2 separate regions of the Homo sapiens genome follow, and region 2 is linked to region 1. Evidence: fine-mapped expression QTL. Tissue or cell type: whole blood. Region 1 holds a variant in brackets; the other region holds the start of a gene. All regions are shown on one strand. Distances are between the middles of the regions.

Region 1 (5,260 bases):
GGGGTGGGGGGTGGCAGAGCTGGGGCCCCCTCCCCCTCTAGGTGGGGAGACCTCCAATCAGTTGTCACCTGCCTCTCTGGTTCCAGTGGCTTAATTATTTCATTTAAGGCTGATTCAGACCCTGGCCAACACCGCAGAGCAATGCCGGTCCCCTTCCTGTGTGGTTCGTGCCCAGGAGAGCTCGGGTGGGAGAGGTGGCAGCCCACATGCAGAGGAGGAGCCTGGGAGAGCATGGAGCCCCCTCCCAAACACGTCCACACGGCCTGTTCTGCCACTCCCCATCTGTGGCCAGGGCTGGCGCCTCACCTCCAGGGCCTCAGTTTCCCCATCTGTGAACTGGGCGTCGTGGCCTGGCCCTGCCCACCTCGCAGTGAGGAGGAACTAAGATAGGTCATGTGGGGCAACTGTGTTAAATTGTGACAAAATAAGAGAAGATTGTCACCATTGTTACCAGCACCATCCTCAACGACATCAGTGTAGAACGTGCTCCCCAGAAACCCCAGATCAGACAGTAGTGCCTGGCAGGTGCCTGGCTGAGCAGGAGCTCCCGGGAGGGCCTCCGTCCTCCTCTGTCCTCTGTCTACTCCCACCCCGAGGCTGACCTGACACATCCCTCTCTACACCACCATCCCACGCCAGGCAGAGGGGACACCGTAGCCCCTACCCGTGGCCCCTGCACCCAACGTCACAGACTCATTCACCCGGCGAATGAGGGTCACGTTGACGAGCCGCTGGGCATCCTGGGTGTCTGCCCACCCGCAGGTGATGTGGCTGGTATAGTCACTGTAGCAGCGCAGGGTCTGCAGCAGGACGGTTTCTGACAAGAGGGGCAGGAAGGGGTCACCTCTCTCCCCTGCAGGGTCCCTTATCACCACCACCCCCAGCTGATCTGGGGCAGAGGTGCCCTGGGTTGGGAAGGGGGTCTGCCAGGGTGAGCTTCTGCCTGTGGACCCTCCTCTCCTGACAGAAGCACCGTGCAATCCCTGCAGAATGGAGACACGCAGCAGCGACAGGCCCTGCCCCCCAGACCCCCAGGCATCAACCCAGCCTTGAGATGAACCCCAAGCCAGGACGCTGCTGGAGCAAAGGTCTGGAGGTGGAACCACTGAGGTGCAGCGAGTGTCTGCTGGGGAAGGAGGAGAAGGGAAACGGTCAGAGCAGCCACCCTGGAGCCTGGGGGCCTGGAGTGCCGTGCTGAGAAATATGGGCTGGGAACCCAGACACACTCAGCTGGACTTTCCAGGACAGGATGAGCAGGAATGTGCAGGAGGAGGGAAGTGAAGGAAGCCCAGGGAAGGCCGGGGAAGAGACGAAGCAAGGGGAGCAGGAGGAGGGTGGGTGGGCAGGGTCCTGGGGGTATGGTGCGGGCCTCCTCCAGGGTGCAGCAGTGAGGAGGGGGCAGGGAAGGGGTGGGAGCCACGGAACTCACCTTCTGCCCCTGCCAGGCTAAGTCCCCAGCACAGGGCCAGCAGGGCCATGAGGAGCAGCTCCCAGGCCAGCACCATTTTCCTGGTCAGCTCTGGACAGGCAGGTGCTGGCACAGGTGGATGCTGGCCATGGGCTGGGGTGGGGTCTTCCATGCCCTGGAGTCCTGTGTTCCTGCCCAGCTGGGAGCCAGGCCAAGCTGATCTCACCAGGTCTTGTTATTCCTCCATCCATGAATTGCCATCCTACCCCAGGTCTTGAGAAAGGAGATGTGGGCCAGGATAAGGCCCATCCACCCCTCTCGTCTTCCCAGGGATATGGCCGATGAGGAGGGAGAAGGCCATGTTGGGGGTACGGGGAGCCTGGTCCTGCGCCTTCTCCACCTAGTGTGGATCTCCTCCTCTGCCACTCTCACCCTTCCCCGCAGTGCTGGTGTAGATTCTGTGTGTTTGTATTGGGTGCTACTGGGTTGATGCCCAAGTGGGCTGCGTTAAGCTCTTCAAGTGATTTTGGCAGATAAGCTTTGTGGATCCACCCACCACAGATGGAGCCTGTCTCCTCCCAGGTCTTGAGGATGCACAGACTCCCTTTGGGCCACCTCACTCAACACCAAACACTCCACCATCCTTCCTCACCTGCCCCAAGCTGTTACTGCCCATCCCTTCTTCTCTGCAGGAGCCTGAGGCATTTCTTAGTTTCTTGCCCTTTGTGATGTCAGAAGAAAAGACAGAGGTCTTCTTTTCTTCTTTCTCAACACTTCTGAAACCATGAAACACGCAAGCCTCCACCCACTCACACACCCACATACACACCTACACATACCTGCACACACATGCTCAGACAACCCTGATGGGACCTGACCACCCTACGAGGGCGCTGACAAGACCTTGAGGATGCTGGGAACGAGCCAGGAAGGAGGACAGGATAGGAATGGAGTTCCTGAGGAGGCAGCAGGGCTTCTCGGTACAGAAAATGGTGAACTCTCAGTCTTCCTGCCCTGGCCATGCTCAGCTGAACAAAACCACACCAGCTGGTCTCACTTAAATTCAGGATTACCATCGGAGGCGGGGGTTGTGGGGAGGCTCTTAACGCTGCCAGAACCCCAAATGACACTTCCCAGCAGCAAGGAGGAACTCTGCCCTTCCCAAGAAGCTATTTCACACCTCTCCACTTCCGTCACACCTCTACTTCCCCTGCACCCCATTCCCATGCCCCACTTCCCCTGCACCCCATTCCCATCCCCCACTTCCCCTGCACCCCATTCCTACACCCCACTTCCACTGGACCCCAT[TC/T]CCACAGCCCACTTCCCCTGCACCCCATTCCCATGCCCCACTTCCACCTTAAGGACTCACGTATACCCAGGCACTATACAAACACACACACCCACAACCACATGCACAGACGCCAATGCAGGCACCCCTGACTTGCATCAAAGTCAACACCCAAATGGGCCAAATGGCTCCAAGTGGAGGAGGAGGGGCAAAAGACAGGCATGGGCAGAGGGAGAAGAGGCTTCTGCTTCTGGCCATAATGGAGTAACTAGGACCAGGTATAGCCTTCTACTTTAGAAGTATAAAACTGGACAAACGATATTAAAAATCTGTTTTCAGCTGTTAGAAAAGAGGAGTCCTTCTATATGATCGCTCAGAGAGTGAAAACAAACACGGTAGGTCCTATGATCATCCTACCTTTCTTTTCTTTTTCTTTTTTTTTTTTTTTTTCTGAGAGGGAGTTTCGCTCTTGTTGTCCAGGCTGGAGTGCAGCGGCGTGATCTCGGCTCACCGCAACCTCCGCCTCCCGGGTTCAAGTGATTCTCCAGCCTCAGCTTCCCGAGTAACTGGAATTACAGGCACTCGCCACCACACCCAACTAATTTTGTATTTTTAGTTGAGACGGGGGTTTCTTCATGTTGGTCAGGCTAGTCATGAACTCCTGACCTCAGGTGATCCTCCCACCTCGGCCTCCCAAAGTGCTGGAATTACAAGCATAAACCACCGTGCCTACCTTTTTCTACCTTTCTACCACTTTCTTGACTGTGACGTAGGTAAAAGAACTCCAACATGACCATGGCAGTCTTGCTGTGTTGGGCGATAGGGGTCTGAGTCTGAAGAGGCAAAAGAAGCTGGAATTTGGTGTAGAAAACAAGAGAAGAAAGAGCTGCACAGAGAAAGAGACCCAGCAAATCTACACAGAGATCCTCTTGCATGTACTGCTGCACACTAAACCATGCATGTGTGGGGTGGAGCTCCACTAGACTGTGTAAATAGTACACAGAGAGATGTATCTGAACAATTTCCAGAACTCACCAAGGTCTGGGAGATGTTCAAGTTCCAACAAGCCAGAATAGGAATTCTTACTGAACACCTCACACATTCAGTAGAGAACCAAGAAGAAAAACACCTTAGTGCCAGCACTAAACCAGCCCAGGAGAGGGCCATTCTAAAACTGCTCTAGGCCAGCATGGTGGCTCATGCCTGTAATCCCAGCACTTTGAGAGGTCAAGGCGGGTGGATCACTTGAGGTCAGGAGTTCGAGACCAGCCTGGCCAACGTGGTGAAACCCCATCTCTACTAAAAATACAAAAATTAGCTAGGCGTGGTGGCAGGTGCCTCTAATCCCAGCTATTTGGGAGACTGAGGCAGGAGAATTGCATGAATCCAGGAGGCGGAGATTGCAGTAAGCAGAGATTGCACCACTGCGCTCCAGCCTGGGCAACAAAGTAAGACTCCATCTCAATAATAATAATAATAATAATAATAATAATAATAATAATAAAAGTCCTCTAAGGAAGCTTAAAAACAAACCTTAAAAGATCAAACTGATTGATATGGTTTGGATTTTTGTCCCCATCCAAATCTCATGTTGAAATGTAATCCCCGATGTTGGGGGTGGGGCCTGGTGGAGGTGTTTGGATCATGGTTGGGGGATCCCTCGTGAATGGCTTGGGCCATCCCCTTGGGGATGAGTGAGCTCTCACTCTGAGTTCACAGGAGATCTGGTCATTTAAAAGTGTGTGGTACCTACCCCTACGCTGATCTCTCTCTCTCTTTCTCTCGTTCCTGCTTTCATTGTGACGTGCCTGCTCTCCCTTCACCTTCTGCCACAATTGGAAGCTTCCTGAGGCCTCCCCAAAAGCTGAGCAGATGCCAGCACCATGCTTCCTGTACAGCCTGCAGAACTGTGAGCCAATTAAACCTCTTTTCTTTATAAATTACCTGGTCCTGGGTGTTTCTTTATGACAGCATGAAAATGACCTAATACAGAAAATTGGCACTGAGAGTAGGATATTTTCCATATTAGGTCATTCTCATATTGCTGTAAATCAATGAATGCCTTAGACTGGGTAATTTATAAAGAAAAGAGGTTTAATTAGCTTACAGCTCTGCAGGCTGTACAGGAAGCATGGCACCGGCATCTGCTTCGTTTCTTGGGGAGGCCTCAGGAAGCTTACAATCATGGCAGAAGGTGAAGAGAGAAGGCACGTCACACAGTGAAAGCTGGTACAAGTGAGAGAGAGAGAGAGAGAGAGAGAGAGAGAGCACTAGTGCAGAGGCAGCTGCCACACACATTTATTTTAGTTTTTTTTTATGTTTTTATTATTATTTTTGAGACGGAGTCTCGCTCTGTTGCCAGGTTGGAGTGCAGTGGCACGATCTCAGCTCACTGCAACATCCACCTCCCTGGTTCAAGCTATTCTCCTGCCTCAGCCTCCCAAGTAGCTGGGATTACAGGCGCACACCACCACACCTGGCTAATATTTCTATTTTCAGTAGAGACGGGGTTTCACCATGTTGGCCAGGCTGGTCTCAAACTCCTAGCCTCAGATGATCTGCCT
Region 2 (5,000 bases), 41 kb before region 1:
GGCAATGATCATCATGATAATGTTTAATTAAATTAAGGAACATCATTGCATACTGAAATTATACAAGTGTGGGAGTGGGATGAGAAAGCTTAAAAGTATCTCCCTACCAAATGCTTATAAATTACGATGTGGAAGGGGAAGTAACTTTACAATAGAGAAACTTGATTGGTGTCAAGTTAATCAAATGATCAGAGCGAACGACATTAGTGATGGGACAGATTGACAATGAAAGCTAATAGGACTCACCAAGAATAATCCAGCATCACTTCTGTGCTATTTTGGCCAAAAAAGCATAACCCAGTTCTAATCATCAGACAGAGCCAAATCGAGGGACATTATTCAAAACAACCAACCTGCAGTCTTCGAGATGTCGAGGAAAAAACAAGGCATCTGTTTCAAACTGGAGGCCCGAAAGACATGGCAACTAAGAGCCATGCATTTAGAGAGAATGCAAAGTCCCGGATGGATTTTCTTGTTACAAAACCATTATTGAGAAGCTTAGCGAAACTCAAAGGGGGTTTCCACATGAAGGGTATGTGAGAGTTCTTTGTATCATTCCTTTAACGCTCTGTATTTTGAAATAGTTTCAGAATAAAAATGGAAATGGAAAAAAATGCAATGTTAACATATACGAGTTACTACTTTCAACAAGTTATCTTCCTTTTCATGCCTCAATTTCTTCATCTGTAAGGTGAAGACAGTAACAGCTACATAAAGGTTATTGGGAAGAGATGGAGAAGCCCCCAGCCGAAGGTCTGCTCACAGCGTAAATGCTCAAGCCCTGGTCATTATGAGTACTACGTTCTTGCCAACATTTTCTTGGGTTTCTTAGTCTCTAAAAGATCGTCAATTGCAAGACACGGTATTTTACATACCACTGAAGGAAAAAACAAACAAACAAACGAAAACATTCAATGAATTCCTGACGGTGTGATTCTTCTCGCTTAGAACTTTTAATACTTATTGAGAGAACTCTGTTAGACTCATTCAAATGTAGATTTTTATCCCCTGCTGCTCTATGATGACTTTTAAAAGGAAAGGGTCAGTCAAGTGAATTGGCTGAGGTGTTCCTAAAGCTCCTTCACATTTTGGGTCTGGTGTCCGGAGTGATTTTGACTCAGAGTCTCGGGTTCTTCGTTTCTCCACCAGACAGCATCCTCTGTGCTCCTGAGGGCATCCAGGCCCGCAGCCTCCCAGTCCCACAGAGGACCTCAGCAAAGACAGGCAGAGTGGGGACACCTGGGAGAAAAGAGAGCCCGGGACGTCACTTTAATTCCATCCTCTCCAGCCCTGGAGAAGCCCCTGCAGGGTTTTTCCATGCCAGGCAGGGACCTCACACTGACCGGAGTGCCTGAGAGAACCACACATGCCTTCCTCTACCCTGGGCTTTCTCTGCTAGGGTGAGGCCCTGCCAGCTCTTCCTGGCCAACCCTGCCCTTCCTGGTAGGAGGAAAGCAAAGAACAACAATCAGGCCAGAATTCCAGTGGCTTCGAGGCAGGTTCCTGCCCCTCCATTTCCTCCATTCCCCTCATTCTTGCCCTCCATTCCCCTCATTCCTGCCTGCTGCCCTTTCTCCTGGGAGGCAGCCCCATGTAGGAGAAATATGACTGCGTTTTGTTGTGTCTTGGCACTGTGATTCATCTTGTCTTTATTCAAACTTTTCATATTTGGTTCACCGTGAATAGTTTCTGCATCAGTTGGGATTTTTTTAAACCATATTGCATTAAAATATTACTTACAACAATTACTGAATTTTTAAATGCCTGTTTAAATTTTGAGCACGAGAGACTGCCTCACTCACCTGACCTTAATTCTGCTGGCCCTGCTGTGCTCAGGGAGCCACTCATTCATTCATTCATTCATTCATTCATTCATTCATTCATCTATTCATTTGCACACAGTCAAAGGTGCAATTTCTCCTCTGTACCAGGCCATGTGCTAGGTATTTGGGAGGGAAGTGCAAGCCGGACACAAGCCAGCACTGAAGATAGTGTCAGAAGAAAGACAGCCATGAACACACATGACCATATGACACATGGTGGGGTGGGGCGGCAGGGCAAAGAGGACATCGGGGAAATCAACATGCCACCAGCTACCACTTGTAGGGGGTTCTCCTGTGGCCAGCTCTGAGCTAAGGTCTTCCTGCACAGAATCTCACTGGATTCCCTCAACAGTCCTTCCAGGTTTGTAGATGCTTCTGCAAAAGTAACAGACAGATGGATGTCCCGAGGCTTGGGGAAGTAACACGCAGATGATTTGCACAAGGACACGCTTTAAGAAGCAGTGGACTTGGAAGTCCAACACAGATCTGTCTGGCTCTGGGCTCAAACCAGCTATGGTTATTGCAGCCACTTCCACCTGCATCCCCATCAAGCAGTCAGGGAAGGCTGCATGGAGGAGGCCCTGCGTCAGCTGAGGCTTGAAGGAGGCCTAGGAGTTTATAGGAAGGTAAATTGGAGTAGGAGGCTTTCTGGAAGTAAGAAAAGTCACGTGCACTATTAGCAAAGTAGGCCTGGGCCGGCACTGCTTCCTCTTTCTGCTTCTCTGTTTCCTGATGACATCAACATAAATAGGAAACGTGGGAGGCTCACTCTGCCTAGAGGCTCCAGAAGAAGACTGGTCTCTCCCACCACACAGAGGTATGGCCCGGCGTCCAGGAGCAGGGCTGAGGGGTGGGGTCAGAGCAGGGGGGAATGTGGGGAGTCCAGGATGAAAAAGGACAGGGGGAGCCTGGGGGGCGTCCTGTGGGTAGCTGTGCCCTGGGGACTTGGAGGAGTTAGGGCTTGGCCTCTTAGGATGACCTGAGCCCAGACTCCTAGGGCGGCCAGTGGATGGGGAGGCAGCCAGGGGTGCCAAGCTGCTTGGGTGTTGTAGGAGAGCTCTGGGGAGGACTCAGCCTCGCTAGCGGGATCTGGTTGGTCCTGGTGGGAAGGACGCCTAGTGGGGTGAAGAGAGCTCAGGCCTGGGAGTCAGGCACCTATAGTCTGTCTTCGCTTTGTCACTAAGATGCTGGTGGTAGTGAGAGCACCCCCTGTCCACCCTGGGCTTCTGTCTCCTCATCTGTGGAATGGGGAGCATGGATAGTCCCTGACATCTTGGTTTAGAAAGAGAGAGAACGCATGCTCGTGTGTTTGCCCGTGTGTGCATTTGTGTGTGTGCCTGTGTGTGTATGTGCATGTGCGGATGTCTGGGGATGCAGGAGTGCAGAGAGACTAAGAGGCAGAGGGTGAAACCTGGAAGCTTGCTGCGCTGAGGCCCAGAGCTGGGTGCGGTGTGGCTTGAGAAGCTCACTTTGAACTTGAGAAAGAGCCCAGCACTTTGCCCAGAGACATACCAGGCACTATCCAGCAATCTCTCTCTCTCTCTCTCTCTCTCTCAGTCTCTCTCTCTGTCTGTCTGTCTTTTTAGTTATGACACTCTGCCCTGCTGATTTGGGTTGCTGATTTGGGTTGGGGCCCAGGTGTGTGTGTTCTGTACCCAAGTATGCTGGCTGGGTGGGTGGGTATCTGGGGTGCCTGCTTCAGGGTGTGTGCAGGTGTGTGTACTGGCCCTGAGAATGAAAGGGCAGGTGTTTCACTGGGACCTTGTCAGACAGGTGCTAGCGACAAGCTGCATATGTGCAATTTTTAGTCTTCAAAAACCCTGCTGTTATATTTTTGTACAGCCCAATTCTAATTTTTTTCTATCATCTTTCCTGCTTTGTAATCATTTTATAATGAGTAAACATTTCCTATTAGCTTTTGGTCACTCTTTTTTTCATCCAGCAGTTTTATTTATATTGTTCCAGTATACAGATATACCAACACCACAGGATAATTCATGAGTTGTATAAGGAATGTATTTAATGCTAAACAAGCAACTACACAGAAACCTACCTTCATGAAAATTAGAATAATCTAGAATTATGTAGCACAAGAGACAAAGTCCCCAGCAATTTCTTTTCCCTAGTTCCATAGCTTATTCTTTTCACCACATGTATTCTTCCAGAACATTTTCTAAGCATGATACAAGCATATAGTTTTTCTTTTCCTGTTTGTTTTTTGTTTTGTTTTGTTTTGTTTTTGTGACAGAGTTTTACTCTTGTCGCCCAGGCTGGAATGCAGTGGTGCAATCTTGGCTCACTGCAACCTCTGCCTCCCGGGTTCAGGTGATTCTCCTGCCTCAGCCTCCTGAGTAGCCGGGATTACAGGCATGAGCCACCACACGTGGCTAATTTTTGTATTTTTAGTAGAGACAGGGTTTCACCATATTGGCCAGGCTGGTCTCGAACTCCTGACCTCAGATGATCCGCCTGTCTCAGCCTCCCAAAATGCTGGGATTACAGGCTTGAGCCACTGTGCCAGGATGGTAGTTTTTCTTTTTACAGAAATGGGATTATTTTATTTATATATATATATATATATTCCTAATTTTTTCACTTAATATTGTATTTTGGAATATTTCCAAATTTCTACAATAATACATACAGATTTAACTCGTTAAGTAACCCTAAGAAATATGTGGCATTTATTAGGATGGGTACACCACAATTCATCTAATCTCACGTTGATCGACACCTAGATTGTTTCTAATTTTTCCACATCTGTGAAAGTGTTTCTGTAGCCTAAATTACTAAATGCAGAATTGCTGTGCAGAGGTTGTGCGTTAGAAATTATAATAGGTATTGTCAAATCAGCCTCAAAGTAGCTGAGCTAAGCTGACGTCCCCAAGGTAGTGCATAAAGGGTCCAATTTACCTTTAGAGAAATTATCAATCTTCTAATTTTGTCCAATATTATGTATGGAAATTCTCAATGTCGCGTGATTTTTTTCTTTCCCTGATTATGGGTGAAGTTGTACATTTTCTATATGTGGATTGGCCTTTTGGATTTCATTTATGATGAATGTGGAGAAATTTTTGTTCATCTCCTGTTGAATTCTCTTTTACATCTTAACTTTTGGAGTGACTCATTTATTACGTGTATTAATAATCCATTTATATATGTTGAAAATATATTCTC

The links. PIP is the estimated chance that this variant, and not a neighbour inherited with it, causes the effect.
Region 2: CSF2RB starts here. The variant in region 1 is fine-mapped to the expression of CSF2RB in whole blood (INTERVAL, PIP above 0.99).

What each region holds. Positions count from the first base shown.
Region 1 is chr22:36,952,219-36,957,478 of GRCh38, forward strand. LOC124900478 (a long non-coding RNA gene) reads right to left here and starts at 2,442. Exons shown (of 3, transcript XR_007068091.1): 1 at 1,430-2,442. It also overlaps the pseudogene CSF2RBP1. The variant TC/T (reference allele first, on the strand shown) is at 2,717.
Region 2 is chr22:36,911,038-36,916,037 of GRCh38, forward strand. CSF2RB (colony stimulating factor 2 receptor subunit beta) reads left to right here and starts at 2,591. Exons shown (of 14, transcript NM_000395.3): 1 at 2,591-2,640. RefSeq lists an enhancer at 424-1,125.